7 linked regions of the Homo sapiens genome follow. The protein of the gene in region 3 purifies or fractionates together with the protein of the main gene of each other region. This does not show direct contact. Each region holds a gene or a part of one and is shown on either strand. Other genes may lie near its edges. The genes, in order: PPP2R5A, SAAL1, C3orf18, SACS, PRORP, EXOC6B and EXOC6.

The links.
Region 1: the proteins of C3orf18 (region 3) and PPP2R5A purify together in Homo sapiens (co-immunoprecipitation; one large-scale study listed by IntAct). This does not show direct contact.
Region 2: the proteins of C3orf18 (region 3) and SAAL1 purify together in Homo sapiens (co-immunoprecipitation; 2 studies listed by BioGRID and IntAct, with this or other methods). This does not show direct contact.
Region 4: the proteins of C3orf18 (region 3) and SACS purify together in Homo sapiens (affinity purification with mass spectrometry; one large-scale study listed by BioGRID and IntAct). This does not show direct contact.
Region 5: the proteins of C3orf18 (region 3) and PRORP purify together in Homo sapiens (affinity purification with mass spectrometry; one large-scale study listed by BioGRID and IntAct). This does not show direct contact.
Region 6: the proteins of C3orf18 (region 3) and EXOC6B purify together in Homo sapiens (co-immunoprecipitation; 2 studies listed by BioGRID and IntAct, with this or other methods). This does not show direct contact.
Region 7: the proteins of C3orf18 (region 3) and EXOC6 purify together in Homo sapiens (affinity purification with mass spectrometry; one large-scale study listed by BioGRID and IntAct). This does not show direct contact.

The regions. Positions count from the first base shown.
Region 1 is NC_000001.11:212,347,910-212,351,409, reverse strand, and holds part of PPP2R5A (serine/threonine-protein phosphatase 2A 56 kDa regulatory subunit alpha isoform), read right to left. Parts: intron 3,022-3,500; coding exon 2,913-3,021; intron 2,222-2,912; coding exon 2,168-2,221; intron 1-2,167. UniProt on the Homo sapiens protein: The B regulatory subunit might modulate substrate selectivity and catalytic activity, and might also direct the localization of the catalytic enzyme to a particular subcellular compartment.
Region 2 is NC_000011.10:18,085,583-18,089,082, forward strand, and holds part of SAAL1 (protein SAAL1), read right to left. Parts: intron 1,644-3,500; coding exon 1,561-1,643; intron 1,473-1,560; coding exon 1,284-1,472; intron 1-1,283. UniProt on the Homo sapiens protein: Plays a role in promoting the proliferation of synovial fibroblasts in response to pro-inflammatory stimuli.
Region 3 is NC_000003.12:50,557,748-50,561,247, forward strand, and holds the end of C3orf18 (uncharacterized protein C3orf18), read right to left. Parts: intron 3,318-3,500; coding exon 3,170-3,317; intron 1,991-3,169; coding exon 1,910-1,990; 3' UTR 1,400-1,909; coding exon of another isoform or gene 917-1,399; 3' UTR 278-916; downstream 1-277.
Region 4 is NC_000013.11:23,328,330-23,330,516, forward strand, and holds the end of SACS (sacsin), read right to left. Parts: coding exon 1,807-2,187; 3' UTR 501-1,806; downstream 1-500. UniProt on the Homo sapiens protein: Co-chaperone which acts as a regulator of the Hsp70 chaperone machinery and may be involved in the processing of other ataxia-linked proteins.
Region 5 is NC_000014.9:35,174,552-35,178,051, forward strand, and holds part of PRORP (mitochondrial ribonuclease P catalytic subunit isoform 1 precursor), read left to right. Parts: intron 1-3,500.
Region 6 is NC_000002.12:72,182,534-72,186,033, forward strand, and holds part of EXOC6B (exocyst complex component 6B), read right to left. Parts: intron 1,655-3,500; coding exon 1,542-1,654; intron 373-1,541; coding exon of another isoform or gene 357-372; exon of another isoform or gene 320-356; intron 1-319. UniProt on the Homo sapiens protein: Component of the exocyst complex involved in the docking of exocytic vesicles with fusion sites on the plasma membrane.
Region 7 is NC_000010.11:92,953,020-92,956,519, reverse strand, and holds part of EXOC6 (exocyst complex component 6), read right to left. Parts: intron 1,891-3,500; coding exon 1,779-1,890; intron 941-1,778; coding exon 806-940; intron 1-805. UniProt on the Homo sapiens protein: Component of the exocyst complex involved in the docking of exocytic vesicles with fusion sites on the plasma membrane.

The sequences.
Region 1 (3,500 bases), on a different chromosome or scaffold from region 3:
GTAGAAAGCTTTGATAGGAATGCCTGCTTTCCAGAAAATTAGTATTAAGGCTTAAACCCAAGTAATATGGCCGTAATTTTGGTGCTGGAATGGCCTATGTTAGAAATTGCAAGATCTCTATATCGAGAGATCTTTATGAGTTGGAAAATATTTTCCTTTCTTAACCTGGGTATTTATCTTACTCTCTCTCCTCATCCTGCTCCTATTTTCATTAACCCAACTCAGCCAAACCAGATAAAAGCTGAATAACTGGCCATCATCCCTCTCCCTAATCGTCAAGGTTTTTTGTTTTTTTGTTTTTTTTTTTGTGTCATCTCGGCTCACTGTAACCTCCGCCTCCAGGGTTCAAGTGATTCTTGTGCCTCGGCCTCCCTAGTAGCTGAGATTACAGGCACACGCCACCATGCCCAGCTAATTTTTTTTTTTTTTTTTTAAGTAGAAATGGGGTTTCACCATGTTGATCAGGCTGATCTTGAACTCCTGACCTGAGGTGATCCGCCTGCCTCGGCCTCCCAAAGTGCTGGGATTACAGGCATGAACCACCATGCCCAGCCTCTATCTTCCATTCTTTAAAAATAAATCACCTGTCTTCCTTATCCACCCCAAATTAATTAAATAAAATTTTATTTGTATACTATTTACCAAGCATGAACCATGACTTTTCAATATGTGTTATTATGGGTTTTCTTTTTCTTAATTCTAATGGGAGTTATCATAGATTTGTATTAAGGTTTTACTTTTTTCTTTTTTTTTTTGAAGACAGAGTCTCACTCTGTTGCCCAGGCTGGAGTGCACTGGTATGAGCTCAGATCACTGCAACCTACGCCTCCTGGATTCAAGCAATTCTTGTGCCCTTGCCATCTGAGTAGCTGGGACCACAGGCCTGTGCCACCATGCCCAGCTAATTTTTGTATTTTAACTAGAGACAGGGTTTCACCATGTTGGCCAGGCTGGTCTCAAACTCCTGGCCTCAAGTTATCTGCCTGCCTCAGCCTCCCAAAGTGCTGGGATTACAGTTGTGAGCCACTGCACACCTGGGAATCAACTTCAGAGGTTTATGTGGTTTCATGTACAAATATATGGTTTCTAATTCTCCTGAATTGTCTTCAAAAACTGTTTACAGCTGTTTCTAGAAAAGACTGTAAATCTAAAAGTCAAAAAACTAATAAAAATTAAGGAGTGGAAAAATGTCTTTTGTTCCATTACACAAAGTTCAAGTGAAAGGGAGAATACTAAGTATATGATTTTTTCAAGCATCCCTACGGATAGCCTGAGAAGGTTCATAATATAGTAAAAATACATATATATTTTAGTTTTTCAAACCCTTTGCTATTTACTAAATATTTATTAGGTTGCTGCTAAAGTGATTGTGGTTTTTGCCATTAAAAGTAATGGCAAAAGCCGCAATCACTTTTGTACCAACCTAATACTAGGTAAATATTTAGACTGAACATGCCTAGAAAGCATTCTCTCAAAATACTTACTTCACCAAGGTTAAAATGTTTTCTATGCTTTTATACTTTTCTGTTTCACCCTACTTCATCTTTTGTTTTTCTTGAATCCTCAGTAAATTTTCATAACTAATTATGTTTTCACTCTCTCCTGAATTTTCATTCTAGAGGCAAATAACAGTAGAATTCAAAGCCTAAGTTGCCTTGCTGGTTCATAAACTACTTTTATTCCAAGATTACATCTTATATCTTAATCACCAAAAGCAAGGAAATGTTTTCTATCCCTATCAAGTGGTTTATTGTTAATGAGTGGCAAAAATTCTATTATTAAAAACAAAACAAAATTCAAGGGAGTAGTAGTTTTGGGACCCTCGAAGTATGCTTTAATTCCAAAAGGTGAATGAAGATTTAAAAGATTATTGGTGAAGACAGTATGCATATAAAATTTCACTGTGGTCATCTGATCCTATCATCGTACATCTTAACTACTACATATTAATAGTAGTCTATATTTCGGTTATTCAAGACATAACTCACGAGAACTCTCCCCTCCTAACCCCTTCTTTTAATGTAGATTAATCTCACATTTCTTCTTCTAAATGATTTTAGCTTAACGTACATTATTCTACTTAATAACTATAAAGGCTATAAAACGAAAGCTACAATGAAATGCTATTAATGCAGACCAAAAACATGAAAATAAATAGAACACTTACTGGCTCTGTTAGTGTTGTATCTTTCTCCAGGAACTGTACAACACAATATGCTAGCTAAAAGGTAAGGGACAGTTTATAAATATTAGTGAGATAACATTTAATAATGTAGGATTTTTATATTTAGCCAATATTTTTTAGACTACCTCATTTTGATAAATTATTCCAATATATAAAAATATACTCACAACTGTGAATGAAATTGTGAAATACCTCAATCGTGAAACTATACTCACAATTGTGTAACTTTTTAGCCTTGAAAGTAACTTCAAGTTTAAAAAACATTTTTAGTAGTAATTTCTGACTATAAAGTTAACTGAAATAAGACTAGAGCTAACAATTTAGTTTTTCAGCATGTTTCTACATGTACACCTATGCTGATATATTATTCTCTAAATATTAATAGAAGAGACCAAAATCTCTCTAACTAGGTCTAGGTTATTGCAGCTGGAAGAAACATTCTGTAGATATGTGGGATTTATTCAAAGTCACATAATTAGGTCAAGACCTGGACTATAATATGAGGAAAGTGTGTATCTTAAACTGTAAGTGTAGATATAGAAATTAAATAATTGGTCTTACTTAACAACTAAATACTTTAAAATAAGAAAAATTTGCTTTGGGTAATTTTGTAAGCAAATTGCTTAATTATACTTAAAACTGTCATCTCAGTATTTCTCAATTTCTCTGCCTTTATATTGGCCTTTGAAATAATATTCATTTCATCTGAAATGTTTCTGAAACTTACCTGAGCATGAAACAAAGCTAATCCTTTTGCAGTATGCATAGGAATAAGAACCTTCATTAGAAATTGTTTATGTTCTGCTTTCAGTGGCAATGCAAAGCCATTGATAATACTGGAGGGAAAAAAAGGCAGGGGAAGGGTTAAGTAGTTACTACTTTGTTTCTAAAAGCTGTCATATCCATGAGTACATAAGGAACAGTGCTATGCTTCAATCCTGGTGTTGTATGACTGCTCATCTTCAAACTACTTTAGGAAGACTATTACTATGAAGTCTGTTCCTCTAAGTCATTTGATGATTCCAAAAGAAAATTAGGACTGTCAATTAATTCCCAAGTAATTTCTATCTTCATTTTCTATCAAACCTGTCACTTTATGCATTGTTGCTTTTATTTTTGCCCCCAAAGCTCCAGGAGAGTCAGTACCACAATATTGTTAGAATGTTCAATATTTTTCTGAAGTAAATGGGTAATTTTTCTTACTTTGTTGGATAACGTGAAAGAAGTAGTTCTCTCCACAATCATTTTCTACTATTAATAAAGGAAACTAAAATCATTGTCTAAATAGTAACAGAAGGGTCTAAAATTCTCTTAA
Region 2 (3,500 bases), on a different chromosome or scaffold from region 3:
TTTGTTTTTGGAACTCAAAGTTAGTGATAAAAATAGTTAAAAACATTCTGAAAACTTAGAATGAAGAGGAATTTGCCTTATTAGGTATTAAAACATAAAACCTTAATATTTAAAAACACTATGGCTACTAATATATGAATACAGCAATGGAACTGAACAGAATATATAGGGGAATTTTAAAAATAATGATGAAATTTCAAATCAGTGTGGGTAAGCTGGATTATTCACTAAATGATGTTGAGATAACTGGGTAGCCCTCTGGGAAAAAACTGATACCACTAGAACCAAAGTTATCAAAGGGGGAAAAAAAATTAAAGCCACACTTCACATGTGACACGAGAATAAATTCTAAATGAATCATGAATTTAATTGTGGTCATAAAAACAATTCTGTGAAAGAATATGTGTTTATATAGGAAAATATTCATTTTATATTTCTAAATGAAATGTTGGCTAAAAAGCAGAATTAAATATATGTGCATGTGTGGGATGGTAAGATTACAAACATCATGTTTCCTTGATATTTTTTATAAATTTTTCGGCAGGGTGCAGTGGCTCATGCCTGTAATCCCAGCACTCTGGAAGGCAAGGCAGGAAGGTCATTTGAGCCCAGGAGTTTGTGACAAGCCTGGGCAAGATTGTGAGACCCTGTCTCTATAAATATTTAAAAACTAGCCAGGTGTGGCGTCATGTGCCTGTAGTCCCAGCTACTCAGGAGGCTGAGGTGAGACAATCACCTGAGCCCAGGAATTCAAGGTTGCAGTGAGCTATGATCCTGCCACTGCACTACAGCCTGGGCAACAAAATAAGACTCTGGCTTTAAAATAAGTAAACAGGCCAGGTGGGGTGGCTCACGCCTGTAATCCCAGCACTTTGGGAGGCCGAGGTGGGTGGATCACCTGAGGTCGGGAGTTCGAGCCCAGCCTGGCCAACACGGTAAAAACCCGTCTCTACTGAAAAAATACAAAAATTAGCTGGGCATAGTGGTGTGCGCCTGTAATCCCAGGTACTTGGGAGGCTGAGGCACGAGAATCACTTGAACCCAGGAGGCAGAGGTTACACTGAGCCAAGATTGTACCACTGCACTCCAGCCTGTGCAACACAGCAAGACTCTGTTTCCAAAAAATAAAAATCAATAAAAAATAAAATAAATAAATATGATAATAAAATAAATTTTTGAAGTTTAGCATGTAATGTTTTTATAATTAGGGAAATGAAAGCATTTTTTAAAAGGGAGAAATAAATGAAATGAAAAACAGTATGAGCCTGGGAAACTGTACTTGCCTTTTTCTATCTTTAGATACTCTTGCTCAGTCTGTGAGGCATAGATGGCAGACAACACTGAAAAAACAGAGGCTAGCACTGTTTTCTGTTCTTGAAGAATGATGGGTGGATCATCAGACTGGCAGAATTCATGGCAGACCAGGTCAAAAAGTAAATTCCAAATGTCTTTTCCAGTGTCAGGACAATGTACTTAATAAAGAGGACAAATAAAGCAGTACTTTAAAATCAGCAAACAATTAAATGAGTAACTGTAGTGCATCCCGATAAACCACCTTACCAATTGCTTGAATTCCATCATCCACTGTAGTAAGCAGTTGTAAAATGTGCATGTAAACATCAAGCCATTCTGGATTTTCAGAACTAAATAGGAAAAGTAAAAGCACTGAATCAACAACTTTACTGTCCAGGGGATTCCAATCATTCCTCCATTCAATAAATATTTATTACTCTGCCAGCCACTGTTCAAGGTGCTGAGGATAAAACAAGGAAAGGAACGAAGTCTCTGTGTTCGTTAGAGCTTTTATATTCTAATAGGGGAAACAGCAAAAAATAAACAAATATTATATAATATAATCAACACACACAGGACAAGAAGTAAAAAAACTTTTTGGCTCTATCTCATAAAAGCAACAACGCAGAAACCTACCAGTTGATACTTTATCATTTTGGTTTGCTTGAATAATCAGAACAAAAAAAGACTGCGATTTTTATAGTATGAACGTTAAGGTCCGCTGCATCACGCATCAACAATAATGATGTTCTGAAAATGTCTCAGGATTAACCTAGCTCCCTAGCTGAGAACACTAAAACCATGTAAGTCTAATTCTTATGATCAACCGTTTGGATTCTCAAAAATCTAAATAGTTTGGAAACTCAAAATCTTAGTTCTTCAACCAAACAAGTGAAAAGACAGTGAACAATTAAAACAATGGTTTGGCAAATGTTTATTTAAGTACTTACAAATTTCAGGCACTATGTTAGGAGTTGAGAAAACAGATGTATAAGATGTTATCCCTACCTTCATAAACTTTATACTCTAAAAGGAAAGAAGATTCCAAGTGGGGTAATTACAATAAAGTGGTACTAATGTAGCACTATGGGCTAGGAACTTCACAAAGCAAGGAGACTTAGTTTGCAGGGTCAGGGAAGGTATCTTAAGAAAAATGATGTTTACACAGAAACATGAAGGGGCAAAGAAGTGTCTGAGGTGGAGGAAACATACTGTGCAAGGGCCTGGAGACAAGACAGCCTGGTTCAGTTGAAGAAGTGACGCAAACTTCACATGACTGAAACGCAGAGTACAAGGAATAAGGATAGCGCTACTGGGTCCATAAGCTGTACTTTATTTTTTTGAGAATTTTTCATTTATTTCATTCTTTTTTCCCCTATTTTATTTATTTATATTTTGGATTCAGAAGGTACATGTTGGGGGTTGTTACATGCATGATGCTGAGGTTTGGGAATATGGATGGTCCCATCACCCAGGTGATGTATGTAGTACCCAAGCTGTGTTTGTTTGTTTGTTTTTCTGGACCTTATCCTAAGGAAGGCAACTGAAAAGACCGAAGCATGAGAGTGAAATGAGTGCGTACTTTGCAAAAACAGCTTTAAAGTCTAGGCTTGGGAAGAGCAAGCATAGAGGCAGGGAATTCAAGTAAAAGAATGTGGCAGTTCTCCAGATGAGAAACAATAATGGCTTGATTGGCATGGATGGAATCCCAGAAAATGTCAGGAATAAGGGTTGGGAGTTGACTGCAATGGGAAAATACTGGGGCAGGAAAGATTCAGTAATTGGCTTCTCCATTTCTTCTACATTATCCAAATAGGATAATGATTACATCATTTACTGAGATTGAGAATACTGATGAAGCAGGTTTAGGGAAAGATGATGAATTTATCCCTCACTTGGATAAAGGACACAAAATTAATAGGTTTTGATGTGGCTTACTCAGCACTAAGAATGCACTAAGAAAAACACTAAGCAGATCAATTTAAAAATTAATTTTCTAGTGATTAGCAATAAACAGTTTTAATGACCTGTAAGGCTTAGTAATCACTCTTGGCAAGACATCAGAGTCCCAACATCGGTCACTTATTGAAGACTGGCATATAAACACAAGGAGCAAAAAAAAGCAAATGATGTGCAACGTTAATGAAGTTGTTAAATGTTCAATGTAAAATAAAGCACAAGAAAATGTTTTCTCTTTGATTTAAATT
Region 3 (3,500 bases):
GCCCCCTTCCTCCTCCGGTCTCACAAGGTCCTGTCCAGTTGACCTTTCCACCCTAGGGGGTGACAGGCCTTGGGACCCCAATCCACAGTTGGGAAATGAAGCCCCAGGGCAACCTCGAAGTCAGGGCCAGAGGCATTTCCTCAGACGGCTCAAGAGAAACCTGGGGTGCCACCTCATAGCTGTGATCCAAGCAACTATCCCCAGGCCCCCCACAGCCCCTCACCCATCCTGCCCCTCCTAGGGTTCCACACCCCAAGCGTCACAGGCTCACACACTCTCCATGTAAACATCTTCATTACATCTTTAATGCTCTCACGTGGAGCTGCTCTGGGTTAAATTACAGCTGTATGCATCCTGAATTCCTGGCAGCCTCCAGTCGACTCAAGTGCTAACGTATTTATAGCATTTAGAGGAGGGAATAAATCCAGAACCTTCCCCATGGGGGCTTCCTAGGCCTTTCCCTCCTGACACATGGCATTTGCCCAGTGGAAGGTCTGCATACACTACCCCTGCATCCCCTCCAGCCAGCAGCGGACAGTGACGGTGGAGAGGCTGGGCACGGGACATGCCTCTGTGCATGCTTGTGTGCATATGTATGCCCAGCGTAAAAAAATGCCCTGCTCTTGTGGTCTGTCTCTGCCCAATGGCTTGCCAGGACCCCTGGTATCAGCCCTGACCCTCCAAGGCTTATGGAGAGGCCAAGTGCAGGGACCCATCTCCCCACTCTCTAAACACTGAACGGCTCTTCCCATAGATGGGATGGAGGTGGGGAATTCAAACATAGACTAAGTTTTTTAGATGTTTTTCTGAAGTGCAATCCCTCACCCACTTTCAGGCAGTCATAACTGCCCCCTCTAGCCTGCAGCCTGTGATTACTGCCCTCAGACCAACAGCCTCTCCCAACCCCAGATCCTCATTAGAGCCCAAGACAGGGAGCCGTTTTCAGAAGCAGGTGAGCCCAGTGAAACAATGCAGTGGAGAGAGGAACCGTGCTGTGCGTGCTTCCCTCTTCCCTGCAGTCCCTGAAGATTGAAGGCAGAGAAGATAGCCTACCCTGATGCTCCACTACATACCATGGGGTAGAGGTCGACTTGGAGGGTGGGGCCAGTGTGGACAATCTCATTCTGCCCGCTGTGCTGGGACAGGCACATGTCTGCCCATGGGCACACTCATGCACATGCATGAGGCCTCTCGGCAGGTCTGGGGGGGCTGCATCCTTCCACTTCCATTCCCCTACTTCCTTCCCCCTCAGCTCCCATCCTAGCTTGGCCCCAGTAACATCTGGTTGCCAAGGATGGGTGGCTGGGAGACCTCCTGGACCCTCCGTAGTATGGATGGACCCTGGGTGTGAATTGCCCTTCTCCTGGCATCCTTGCATACTGGACAGTTTCAGCTCCATCTCTGGGCTTCTCAGGGCCCATAACAGATGCTGCCCTACCCTGTCCCTATAACTTGGGTGGTTTCCTCTCCCCACCCCAGAGGAGGCTCCAGATTCCAAAAAACAGGTCTCTCCCTAACAGAGGGAAACCTCCCCTTTCCTCCCCCAATCCCTCCCACTCCGTATCTCCCTCATTTCCTCCACATTAGCGGGGCAGACCCTGATGTGAGGGATCTGGACAGGGGATGAGGAAGCCAGCAGAGGCTCTTGACCTTCTCAGCATGAGGGATGCCCTCTGTGCCAGGGCCCTCAGGTCAGGAGAAGTCAGTGGTCAGAAGTCCAGCCTGGCTAGGGCCCTCTCTTAGAGTCTAAAGTCAGCAGGTGGGTCTGGAGAACAGCTAGGACCTGGCTCAGCCCTCTTGTGTCTTGGCAGGGAAGATCTTCAGAGTAGGTCTTGACAATCAGGGAGTGGGGAGCTCTGTAGGCACCGTGATGGGTCTCTATCAGAAGTCCAGGCTTGTCCCAGGCCACTCACGCATGGATGGCATTGGCCACATCGGTAAACACCAGCCGGCTGGGTCTCTGCAGTGGGCCCTGGGAGGGCAGAGTAGTCTGCAGGAAGACAGGCAGGGGCATCAGAGACCATGGGCAAGGCCATGCACTCACTGGCCTGGTCACCTCCACCCTCACTTCCTGGTGCCTGCTTATGCTTGGCACTAGCAATGGCTTCTGCCTGGAATGCCCTCCCTGCAAGCTCAGCCTACAAATATGACTTGGCTCAGATGACTCCTCCCCAGCTTGCCCTGTCACCTTGGAGGCACTTACTGTGTTGATTTAATTATGCATGCACTGCCTTTTCCCAGTGGGGGATCAGAGGGCTGGACTCTGTATCCCCAGGCCCTAGCACAGGGGCTGGTACAAGGAGGAACATGGGAAACAAGTATCAAGTGGCCAGAAGTCCCAGTGGCTGGGTGGACCAAGGTTCTCAGTGCGAGTTCCTGAATATCCCAAGGGGGCAATATATCTTGACCCAGGTGATGCAGAGCTGGTGGCAAAACCAAAGGGTCTTCAGACTTCCAGCCTGGATTCTTTCTGAGCCCAAGAAGACGCAAAGAGGCTGGATAAGTCAGGGGCAGGCCAGGCCTGCTCATGGTGCTCTGGCCCTTGGGGATTTGGGGAAATGGTGGCAAGTGGTCAGGCAGCCCAGTGGTTACAACAGGATGGCCACACAGGTACCTATCCCTTTGGACACAGGAGGCAAGTTTGGCTGAGATCTTCACATGCCTGGGTCTGTCAGCCACTGGGAATCCACCAGCCTACTCAGAGGTACCGCTGTCCAAGAGTCTAACCCCATCCACAACCCACTCAGGACCACGGACCCTCAGGAAGCAGAGGAACCTGGGGTCCTAGCCGCCAACAGTCTCTCCCATTAGTCCTTTCCTACTTTCCTAACCAGTACGTGGGGGCACATGGGGCAAGAATTAGGATTTTCAATTGTGGAAGAGAACACTGAGGCTCAGAGATGCCAGTGGGGCTCCCAAGATCAGCAGGCTATGGGGCAGAGCCAGGCTGTATCCCAGGACTGCCTTGGCCTGGCCTTGCGCTGTGAGTTTGTGGGTGGCCCCAGAGCAATATGACCACTTTCTGAACAAATCTGGAAAAAGCCGTATACCCAATACCTGCCATCTGACCACAAGGCAGGTGCTAGAAAGCTGCATGAGAAAGGAGGGAGGGTGAGGGTGGAGGACAGAGGATGCTGCAGGCGGGGTGGGGAGCCTGGTCAGTGCCCACCTTGCCCTGCATGGCCTGCACAGAAGTAGCAGCCTGTACAGAGGCGGCGTCCCGCCCATGCTCCAGCAGCTCCTGCTCCAACTCATCTTGTTCCTCCGTGGGGTCGAAGTTGTACATGGGCATGAGCTGGTGGCGTAGCTTCTCCAGCCTGGGGATGGGGGCAAAGGCTGCTGGGGACAGGGCAGGCCCTTCCCCTCCCAGCAGCCCTCCAGGCCCTGCCTCCTGACTAGCTGAGCCACAGCACACAACCATGCTTAGGGCCTTAAGGTTTCCCTTGAAATGGGAAAAAATGACAGACATTTTTGCACCTATAGTACCAGCTCAACCCCTT
Region 4 (2,187 bases), on a different chromosome or scaffold from region 3:
TTAAATAAAGCTGAAGGCACAGAATTCAGGTAGCTCCAGAACAGAGAGCACTCTTAGCCCTCATCTGCCTAACTCTGAAGACTTGTGCCTCAACTATAAAGATGAAGAACTCCTATCTGTCAGTAATAAAGTGTGAATTAGTCCCAGACATGCAGCTGTCCCTGAGGCAATGGAAATATCAATTCAGCTCTACCTAGAGGAAAAAAATATTTAATGTATCTGTTTCCAAACACATATATACCACATATATCAGCTAATCTGATTCCCTAAAAAGGTGACATAAACTCAACTAAATCAATGAGCACCTAAACCTAGTATATAACAAGCACTTCATATTCTATTAATCCTAAAAATCTATAATTCCAGCATGAAAATATACAGGAAAATATTTTCCTAATATTTCCAATAAATACACACATACACACACATTAAAACTTAATATTAAGATGTTAAGTTTGATTTCCAATGAACTATTTCTCAGGAAACACCCATTACGATGATTTCATATGTACATTTTCCTTTATTAAAAGTATGGCACTTTATATAACAGCAGAAATAATTACATGATTTCACATCCAGAAGCAATAAAATGTGGAGGTGCAAACATTCCTTATTCCCAATAAAAGTAAAAAAAGTTTCAACATGTTCTGTAAGCCCTTAATTGCATAAAGTATATTTAGCATCATTTACAGCCAGTACACTTATATAAACTAATTATCATTACCTTTTACATTCTGCAAAAGAAATATGTTAAAGTAAAGAAGCATGGCGAGACAAACATGAATTAAATGTCAGTTCTGATCATTCATGGGGAAATATAAGCCGATAATTATAAACTACTAGATAACACAATGATTTTAACAATTTTTGATGTTTTTAAAGTTAAAAAAACTCCACTACATGCCATATTGAAAGAAAAGGTTGTTTTTTTTTTAACTGCAGCACCTTTAGACAACAAAAGATTGCATCCTGTTCAACCACACTATATAAATTATAACATTTGTGGAAAATATGTACACACAAACATAAAGCAAGTGTTCTAACAGTTAATAAATGTTGTCTTGGCAAGCAGTTTCCAGAAACAATACTAACAACTGGTAATAAGAACTGCCACCATTTTGAGTTTTCCGTTGCTATCTTCATCAAACAGGAAGCCTGTAAACATAAGATGTTAAAAAAAAATTTAAATAAAGATGTAAAGTGCACTCAGTGCACTCTAAAAAGTACTACCTTCACACTCTTAGTCAAGTAATAGGATTAAAATACTCTACCATTTCTTAAATGCACTGAGTACAACATAAAATTACAACAAATTCATGATCAGAGCCAGCTGATGAGAAAATAACGCATCCAAGAGGATCCACTTAAAAAAATGACAGACTACAAAGACTTAATTCCCCTTATGTTTAAACCAATTATATGTCCAGTGTTTCATTAGCTCCTTCAAAAATACCATGTTAAAAACATAAAATTAACTTCATCCTAACCAGAGACATACATAGACTCTTATCTAACAAACTGCTAAGCTTTGGTTATATAAAGTGCAGTTCAATGATGTATCATCCCAATCATTCAAATCCATCCAGCTATTTTGCAGCTCACCACCATCTTCAAAATAGTTTTCTTTTAGATTCAGTTAAGGTTTTCCGTTGGTATTCATGTTCATAACAACTCCAGAATTCTCCAAGAACAATCTGCAATGTGCTTAACAATTCCTAGCTAATTGGCAATGAAGCTTAATGAAGTACAGCAATTTATTCGTGCTACAACACATTCAAGATCTACCTTTTTTTTCGTTAAATATCTTCACACTTTTTGTTGCATAAAATTTTCAAGTTTTATTATGATACAGGCAGTACATTCCATCACCCTCATAGCAACCTCAGAAGTGAACCTGTCATTTGGGATCTGAGGAAAGGGAAGCAAATCAGGGTATCTTGTTTTTAAACTGTCTACACCATAAGCTTCCAATGTGTGAACATCATTTGTCAGTCCTTCAAGTTGCTGACTATATTCCTCTATTTTCTGAGCAAGTGCAGTTGGTTTTACATCTTTATCAGACTTTCCCCTCACAGCATAGTCAGCTGCAATCAAAGCTAACTTGGTAGAAAGGTAACATTTAAAGCACACCCACTCATTGGCATTTTTATGAAGGTCATTCCTGGCAGCTGAGAAGTTTGCTCTGGC
Region 5 (3,500 bases), on a different chromosome or scaffold from region 3:
GATTGGCTGAATCTTTACCTCTCCAAAACAGCCATAGGTAAATAAAAGCCTCTTAATGACAAAAGAGGACCTATACGTTTTACAGCCTTGTTCTTTCAGCACGGTTGTACTGGTAGAGTGGCATACCTAAGGTTCACTCCTCCTTGGCCTACAGAACAGGACTTAGAGATTTTGACAGTTCATTCTTCTTTTTTTTTTCTTTTTTTTTTTTTTATTATACTTTAAGTTCTAGGGTACATGTGCACAATGTGCAGGTTTGTATACATGTGCCATGTTGGTGTGCTGCACCCGTTAACTCGTCATTTACGTTACGTATATCTCCTAGTGCTATCCCTCCCCCCTCCCCCCACCCCACGACAAGCCCTGATGTGTGATGTTCCCCTTCCTATGTCCAAGTGTTCTCATTGTTCAATTCGCACTTATGAATAAGAACACGCGGTGTTTGGTTTTCTGTCCTTGCAATAGTTTGCTCAGAATGATGGTTTCCAGCTTCATCCATGTCCTTACAAAGGACATGAACTCATCCTTTTTTATGGCTGCATAGGATTCCATGGTGTATATGTGCCACATTTTCTTAACCCAGTCTATCATTGATGGACATTTGGGTTGGTTCCAAGTCTTTGCTATTGTGAACAGTGCCGCAATAAACATACATGTGCATGTGTCTTTATAGCAGCATGATTTATAATCCTTTGGGTATATAACCAGTAATGGGATGGCTGGGTCAAATGGTATTTCTAGTTCTAGATCCCTGAGGAATCGCCACACTGTCTTCCACAATGGTTGAACTAGTTTACAGTCCCACCAACAGTGTAAAAGTGTTCTTACTTCTCCACATCCTCTCCAGCACCTGTTGTTTCCTGACTTTTTAATGATCGCCATTCTAACTGGTGTGAGATGGTATCTCATTGTGGTTTTGATTTGCATTTCTCTGATGGCCAGTGATGATGAGCATTTTTTCATGTGTCTGTTGGCTGAATAAATGTCTTCTTTTGAGAAGTGTCTGTTCATGTCCTTTGCCCACTTTTTGATGGGGTTGTTTTTTTTCTTGTAAATTTGTTAGAGTTCTTTGTAGATTCTGGATATTAGCCCTTTGTCAGATGAGTAGATAGCAAAAATTTTCTCCCATTCTGTAGGTTGCCTGTTCACTCTGATGGTAGGTTCTTTTGCTGTGCAGAAGCTCTTGAGTTTAATTAGATCCCATTTGTCAATTTTGGCTTTTGTTGCCATTGCTTTTAGTGTTTTAGACATGAAGTCCTTGCCCATGCCTATGTCCTGAATGGTATTGCCTAGGTTTTCTTCTAGAGTTTTTATGGTTTTAGGTCTAACATTTAAGTCTTTAATCCAACTTGAATTAATTTTTGTATAAGGTGTAAGGAAGGGATCCAGTTTCAGCTTTCTACATATGGCTAGCCAGTTTTCCCAGCACCATTTATTAAATAGGGAATCCTTTCCCCATTGCTTGTTTTTGTCAGGTTTGTCAAAGATCAGATAGTTGTAGATAAGCGGCATTATTTCTGAGGGCTCTGTTCTGTTCCATTGGTCTATATCTCTGTTTTGGTACCAGTACCATGCTGTTTTGGTTACTATAACCTTGTAGTATAGTTTGCAGTCATGTAGCTTGATGCCTCCAGCTTTGTTCTTTTGGCTTAGGATTGTCTTGGCAATGCAGGCTCTTTTTTGGTTCCATATGAACTTTAAAGTAGTTTTTTCCAATTCTGTGAAGAAAGTCATTGGTAGCTTGATGGGGATGGCATTGAATCTATAAATTACCTTGGGCAGTATGGCCATTTTCACAATACTGATTCTTCCTATCCATGAGCATGGAATGTTCTTCCATTTGTTTGTGTCCTTTTTTATTTCGTTGAGCAGTGGTTTGTAGTTCTCCTGGAAGAGGTCCTTCACATCCCTTGTAAGTTGGATTCCTAGGTATTTTATTCTCTTAGTAGCAATTTTGAATGGGAGTTCACTCATGATTTGGCTCTCTGTTTGTCTGTTATTGGTGTGTAAGAATGCTTGTGATTTTTGTACATTGATTTTGTATCCTGAGACTTTGCTGAAGCTGCTTATCAGCTTAAGGAGATTTTGGGCTGAGACAATGGGGTTTTCTAAATATACGATCATGTCATCTGCAAACAGGGACAATTTGACTTCTTCTTTTCCTAATTGAATACCCTTTATTTCTTTCTCCTGCCTGATTGTCCTGGCCAGAACTTCCAACACTATGTTGAATAGAAGTGGTGAGAGAGGGCATCCCTGTCTTGTGCCGGTTTTCAAAGGGAATGCTTCCAGTTTTTGCCCATTCAGTATGACATTGGCTGTGGGTTTGTCATAAATAGCTCTTATTATTTTGAGATACGTCCCATCAATACCTAATTTATTGAGAGTTTTTAGCGTGAAGGGCTGTTGAATTTTGTCAAAGGCCTTTTCTGCATCTATTGAGATAATAGTGTGGTTTTTGTCTTTGGTTCTGTTTATATGCTGGATTACATTTATTGATTTGCGTATGTTGAACCAGCCTTGCATCCCAGGGATGAAGCCCACTTGATCGTGGTGGATAAGCTTTTTGATGTGCTGCTGGATTCAGTTTGCCAGTATTTTATTGAGGATTTTTCCATCGATGTTCATCTGGGATATTGGTCTAAAATTTCTCTTTTTTTGTTGTGTCTCTGCCAGACTTTGGTATCAGGATGATGTTGGCCTCATAAAATGAGTTAGGGAGGATTCCCTCTTTTTCTATTGATTGGAATAGTTTCAGAAGGAATGGTACCAGCTCCTCCTTGTACCTCTGGTAGAATTTGGCTGTGAATCCGTCTGGTCCTGGACTTTTTTTGGTTTGTAGGCTATTAATTATTGCCTCAATTTCAGATCCTGTTATTGGTCTATTCAGAGATTCAACTTCTTCCTGGTTTAGTCTTGGGAGGGTGTATGTGTCCAGGAATTTATCCATTTCTTCTAGATTTTCTAGTTTATTTGCGTAGAGGTGTTTATAGTATTCTCTGATGGTAGTTTGTATTTCTGTGGGATCGGTGGTGATATCCCCTTTATCATTTTTTATTGTGTCTATTTGAGTCTTCTCTCTTTTCTTCTTTATTAGTCTTTCTAGCAGTCTATCAATTTTGTTGATCTTTTCAAAAAACCAGCTCCTAGATTCATTGATTTTTTTGAAGGGTTTTTTGTGTCTCTGTCTCTTTCAGTTCTGCTCTGATCTTAGTTATTTCTTGCCTTCTGCTAGCTTTTGAATGTGTTTGCTCTTGCTTCTCTAGTTCTTTTAATTGTGATGTTAGGGTGTCGATTTTAGATCTTTCCTGCTTTCTCTTGTGGGCATTTAGTGCTATAAATTTCCCTCCACACACTGCTTTAAATGTGTCCCAGAGATTCTGGTATGTTTTGTCTTTGTTCTCATTGGTTTCAAAGAACATCTTTATTTCTGCCTTCATTTCATTATGTACCCAGTATTCATTCAGGAGCAGGTTGTTCAATTTCCATGTAGTTGAGCG
Region 6 (3,500 bases), on a different chromosome or scaffold from region 3:
GGTAGGGGAGGCTGCTGAGGAGCTCCCTTCGGTCAGGGCTTTATTTCAGGCCCCACACTAGCAAGAGTATTGAGTGTGCCAAGAAGCTGAATGGGAACAACCCTTTACCTGGCACAATGGGAGAAAATCCCTGCCGCCACTCCCAGCCCCAAAGGAATTAGTAAGCCAAGGGTCACTGTAAGGGCCAAGGATAGAGAAGGCAGCCAGCCAGTTGGCACCAGGCTGGTTTAGTAGATTAGTATGTCAGGGCGGGGACAACTCAGAGGCTAGGGATTTTAGTGTAGTCATTAGTGTCAATGAGGAAACCAGAAGGACTTGCCTCAAAGTGATGGAAAAGGCCCAAGTGAATAATATACTTACTCTCTAGATATCCTAGGGCGGAAGGTCAGTGGGAGAGAGAACCATGGGAAACAAAGTTAAAATGGAAACATCAATCTCTGACGTGGTCAGGAGAAAACTGCAGTCTGAGTTTTTAGTCTCTTGGCTCCAAATACATACACCTGCATCATGCTCTTGCCTACCCTTCATCTCTTCCCCTTTTCTCCCCCTTTCATATTACATAGTAAGAAGGATAGACTTTGACCTCTCCTTCTGCTTAAGGCTCCACTCTGACTTCCTGGACTCTGAGCCTTGTCTTCCTAGGATTTGAGACATGGTTGACTGGCCATATATGTAGACTTCCTACACTGCCTAGATGCAGGGCATTCTTCCAAGTAGCTGGGGCTTAACTAGTTTCTCAGATTTCAAGAGAAACCTGCCTTTTTATATGGGTCTTGGTCTCTGACCTGCCAGCTCTCTAATAGATTAGCAAAGCCAGAGCCAGGCTGTAATACATAGCATTTCCCAGCTTCTGGGTGACATATTTGTTAGCCCTGAGATTTCCTGGAGCTGCCTAACTTACTTTCAGTGGTAGCACCTCTGCTTCAGAGAGGCTACAGCTCTGTGGCAGGGAACCCTCTGCAGGCTAGTGACTGCTTAAGGCAAGAATTAGACACCTTCTCCAACACAGCTTTGTTGGGATAGTCAGCACAATAAAGCTCAGTCTGGCAGGGGGTGGGAGCTGGGAACAGATGAAGGTTTCAATAATTCTAAATAATTTCCAGGGATTCTCTACTAGGAACCAGAGAAACCATCTGTTCTGTGGAGTTGCACTATCCATCATCATACCCCAGGTGACTAGGGCAGCCTCATTCTGTTCACCAGGCTGGCCTGAGCCCCAAACCGAGCCATTTTTTTTTCTCTTGCCATATCTAGTAAGAGACGCTAGTAAGAGACCCATTAAACTAGAAGGTAATGTCAGAATCCAATTCTGATCCATACTTGGCCTGGCTTGTTGGGGGCTCAGGAATTAATAAGCCACAGGAGGAAGACTGGCCTGCCAAGTCCAGTGACTGAGATTGCTGACAGCACCCAGGGCCTATGGCAACTTCCAGAACAAGGCTATCTTTCAAGGTATTGGCAGTGGCAAAATTATCTTCTACGCCAACCCCCAATCCCTGTCTCCCCACCTCCCAACACAGACCATTGGACAAGGTACTCACTTCTCAAGCAGGGTCAGAGCAGTCACTGGGTTTACCCGGAGGTACTTGCAGTTGGGCTGACCATAGTCAGCAAGGTAGGTTGACCAATCCCACTGGATGAAAAGATCCAAAAGCTGTAAAATATCCAAACCCCACCCCAGGGATTAGTCAGACAGACAAGACAAACCAAGATTCCAGAAACTTCATCATCCTTCACTACCAGCTAATAAATTGGATATATAAAAATTAAAATATAATAAGAAAAAGAACAGCTGCAGACTATTCTTTCAACCAAGAAAATAAGTGAGTAAACATTAGATGGCAGACTTATCTCTGCCATAAGCAGTATGGAAACATTGCTAAGACTATATGCCAGCAGTCAGCTCTCAGAGGCAACCCTGTAAAGAAACTAACACGGGACTGAATCAAATATGATAATAATATCATAATAATTATTCACTTACTCATTTAATAAATACTTATCAAATGCCTTCAACATGCCAAGAACCATTCTCAGTATTCAACAAAGAACAAATAAAGGTGGATGTAGTCCAGTGCCACATATACAATTGTTTGAACTTCAAGGTTAAAAGGTCTGGGTTCAAGTATCAGTTCTGTGACTTGCTGTACTGACTTAGCCCAAGTGACTTAGGTAATACAGACATATACACATGCCTATATACAAATAGGACACACAGATAACACAGAAACACTGAAACAAGGCATAAATGGATCATGTAGCATTTATAAGAGGCAATATGTGTTACGTCTATGCAGACACAGGCTAAGAAGATGAAATCAGGGCCATAGTAGATTAGCCCATGATTGAGGACACAGAGTCTAGCTAGAATTGGGTTATGAGTGTTAAAGAGAAGTGCCAAGAGCTAGATGTGTGAAAAGACAATGAGAGCTTTCTGAGGGTGAGCTGAGTTCTGACACGGGAGATTTTGACTGAGAGAAACTAAACTTTTGTCAAAGGCTTTCCTTCCCAGTCAGTTTTAGCCTCAGACATCACACTAACAAATATTCAAAAATTGTAACTAAGTAAAACAAACAAATAAAAGCTTCTAGAAGGGGCACAGTCCCAGACTCATATCACTGCATAGAGGGAGAACCCTCACAGTACTTTTTGACTCAAGACATTCTCCATTTCTCCCTTTCCAGGAGATAGGTAAGTGCTGATGAGGACAAGTAGATGGCTGGTTGTGCAGAACAAAGGCAGAGGGCCAAGAGTGCAGTCATATCCAATGCCAGAGCCTGGGCTCTAGGCACACCTTCCTCCATGTCTGTCTTCACTGTGCAGCTGGGCAAACAGGCAGTATGGGCCTTGCCCTGTTTGGCCAAGTCTCCACTTCATCCAGTTTCTTAGAATAGCTGTTATGAACTTCCTGAAGCAGGATGGGAATTGGCTGAAGTCCCAAACCTAAAACTTAGAAAAGTCCCTATACCCTCAGCCAAGAAAGGGATTTTAGAGATGAGAGAAGGAGTGGGGGAGAGACAGGCACACTGGTTGGTCTGGGCCAGGATGGTCCCAAACGGCCCCTCAGGCCATTTTCAGGTCATGCCTATTTTCATTAGCAAGTTAAAAGGCTTCTACCACTTCCTTCTGTTGACCCAAGGCCTCAGAGAGTTATCCTTTAGAAGAGAATTTCCCTTGACTTTCTACTCTAGTATCAGTATTTCTTTCTTTTTTTTTTTTTTAATTATACTTTAAGTTCTAGGGTACATGTGCACAACGTGCAGGTTTGTTACATATGTATACATGTGCCATGTTGGTGTGCTGCACCCATTAACTCGTCATTTACATTATGTATATCTCCTAATGCTATCCCTCCCCCTCCCCCCAACCCCACGACAGGCCCCGGTGTGTGATGTTCCCCTTCCTGTGTCCATGTGTTCTCATTGTTCAATTCCCACCTATGAGTGAGAACATGAGGTGTTTGGTTTTTGTCCTTGCGATAGATAGTTTGCTGAGAATGA
Region 7 (3,500 bases), on a different chromosome or scaffold from region 3:
TTTAAAACACAAGTACATTCATTTTTTACAATGCAAGTTACTACAATAAAATCTTGGGGGTGATTGATAATATAACAAAAGTAGTTAAAGAGAATTCTTTTTAATAGGAAACTTTTAGAAAGAGCTGTAAGGTTAAATTAGCAAGCCCATTTTACAGATAAGTGATCAGTACATGGTTTATCATTAGTTTAATAAAATATTCAATTCAAGGGGATTTATACACACTAGACTAAGCCAGTGTCTCATCTATGACTCCAAATAATAAAATACCTTATGAAATTGTTTAATCTTACATTCTACCTAAAACAACCATTAATTAATCCTCAGTATATTCTGTATATTATTCAAACAGAAATCTTTCCACCCGCAAAAGAGGTAGGACTTCAATGACATGTAATAATATTTATTTTTCTTCAGATCAGAACCAATCAAGGATGGAAAACAAATCTATCCTTTTTTAATTTGTCTTACATTTTAAATTTTCAAAAATAAACACTCATATAGAATTAATTTTTAAACTGTGAAATATTAATTCAGTTAGACCTAGTCAGCACTACTATAAATCATCAAAACATGAACAAAGCATAATACACTGTAGAAAATAAGTATACTTTTCTCCATGTTAATAAGATGTTTACAGTGCCAAAAAGAAACTGACATTTACTTGCTCATTGTTGACAATGAATACCTCTATTCTTAATTTTTAGGAATATAGTAGATCTTGCATATATAAGAACGGTCTTTAATTTCTTAACGTCTGCTTACAGTGACTGAAATGAAAACTTTTGGTCAAATTTTTACATACCTTGAAAGTAGAAAGTCCATAAAGTCTTGTAGTATGAACAGTTTCTTGGGAAATATTTGTAATGTTAGTTATAAAGTCCTCAAGATATTTACAAGCTTGCTCCAGGTGTGTTGTGTTTATGATGATTTGTACCAGCTAGAAAACACAAGATATATCTAGTAAAATACAGGTTACATGTATGTAAAATCACCTAATTTTTAAAAATGGGATTATTACTTCCAGCAACTGTACCATTTCTACATAATTGCAGCATTATAGGATACAACTATCTGATTTTAAAAGCCTGTTGCAAATACTGCGTATGAATTTATATATATATATATATACACACACACACACACACACCAAGAGTCTAAATACCAGTTATTTTAAAATAACTTTTCATAGTATGTTTCAAATCTTAAACATTTAGCAAGTAAAAAATTAGGATTGTGACTTTTCCTGTAGTCTGGCAATCAGAAATCTAAATAGATATTCTAACATCTTTATCTACTATTCCCCATATGAACCCTTTTCCCTCATTTTTTTATTTTTTCTTCCAGAGACAGGGTCTTGCTGTCACCCAGGCTGTGTAGTGCAGTGGTATGATTGTAACTCACTGCAGCCTCAACCTCCTGGGCTCAAGTCCAGAGTAGCTAGGAATATAGTTGCACACTACCACGCCTGGCTAATAGTCTTCATTTTTTGTAGAAACAGGGTCTCACTATATTGCCCAGGCTGGTCTCAAACTCCTGACCTCAAACAATCCTCCTGCCTTGGCCTCCCAAAGCTCTCGGATTAGAGGTATGAGCCACTGTGCCTGGGATCCTCACATTTCTGGAATTTACACTGGTGTTTTTATTTTGAAAACAAATCTGCTTATATTAATACATTTAAAACAGGAAGCTAGTTTTACAGAATGACGTTCAGCAATAATTTAAAATAATTGTTTCATACAATGAAACATTTCACTATATGTGTCTTTTTAACCTACCTCTGTCAAACCTATATGAGGTTTTCTAATAAGGTTCAGTAAACAGCTACTCAAAGTTCTGGTCAGCAGCAGATTTGTTGATTTTCTAAGCATATCGTCTATTTCTGTTGAGCTAAAAACAAAGATTGATATTATTAAACTTAATAAATAATGAATGTGGTTAGTTAACATCCTAAATAATTTAACACAGTTTACTAAAATAATTTTCCCCATCATTATTTTATATCTTTAAATAAACTACAAAGACCCATATTTATTAAATCACAAACTTCAATTTAACTTTGCAAAAGGGACATTTTCCATAAAGTAGAATATTCATATATGGCATAATTTAAATTTATCCAATTAACAACCACAGAAAAATCATAGAGGACTTGGTATAAGGAAACAAAATTATTCCTAAATTCCGACTCCATCATGGGATAGTAACTTTGTTGTTTTATTATTTTTATTATTGTTTTTGAGCCAGGGTCTCACTTTGTCACCCAGGCTGGAGTACAGTGGTGCAATTATAGCTCACTGTAGCCCCAAAGTCCTGGACCCAAGCAATTCTCACACTTCAACATTCTGAGTAGCTGGGACTACAGATGCATGCCACCATGCCCAGCTAGTTTCAAATATTTTATAGAAACAGGGTTGCACTATGTTGCCCAGGCTGGTCTCAAACTCCTGGACTCAAGTAATTCTCCCACCTTGGCCTCCCAAAGTGCTGGGATTACAGACGTCAGGCACCGCGCCCAGCCCCAAAAGACAGTCACTTTGAAAGAAACTTCATACACAACTATAGCTAAAAATTATTTTTAAAATACAAACTGATATGAGCTCTTTCTAGATATAATAAACAAATTTAATTTTTAATATAACTAAGTTATCCATTTTCATTGATTTTTTAAGTCTTCAAAGAAATAAATTACCTTAAACTAATTTTAATATGATGTTTCTTAACATCCTAAGTATTACTAAGCTAGCACTAAAAAACAAATTCTCTTCTCCTAACCATTCGGTCTTCAATTTAAGTAAATAATGATTTCTTGGATACAGCCTCATTATCACAACAGTTAAACTGTCTGTAGACCATGGATTATCCATCTCGGCACTATTGACATTTTAGGGTGGATAATTCTTTGTCGTGGAGACTGTCCTGCACATTTGGATGTTTGGCCTCTATCCACTAGTTTCAAGTAGCACCTCTCCCCTGAACTGTAACAACCAAAGATGTTTCTAGACATTGCCAAATTTGTGGGGAGGAGGTGGTGGCAGGAGAACCAAAATTATCCCCAGTTGAGAACTACTGCCTTAGATACAGGCTAACATTTTTGCATCCTTTTACTTTTTATTAAAATACTACTTTTAAAAATCTGTGGGCCAGGCGCAGTGGATTGTGCCTGTAATCTCAGCACTTTGGGAGGCTGAGGTGGGTGGATTGCTTGAGGCCAAGAGTTCAAAACCAGCCTGACCAACATGGCACAACCTCATCTCCACTAAAAATACAAAAATTGGCAAAGAGCAGTGGCGCGAACCTGTGGTTCCAGCTACTTGGGAGGCTGAGGTGGAAGGATCACTTGAGCCCAGGAGATCGAGGCTGCAGTGAGCCATAATTGTGCCACTTCATTCCAGCCTGGGCAACAGAGTGAGTTCCTGTCTCAAAACAAAATAAAAACAAAAGCAAAAACAAAAACAAACACAAAGAACTACCATTCAACCCAGCAGTCCCATTATTGG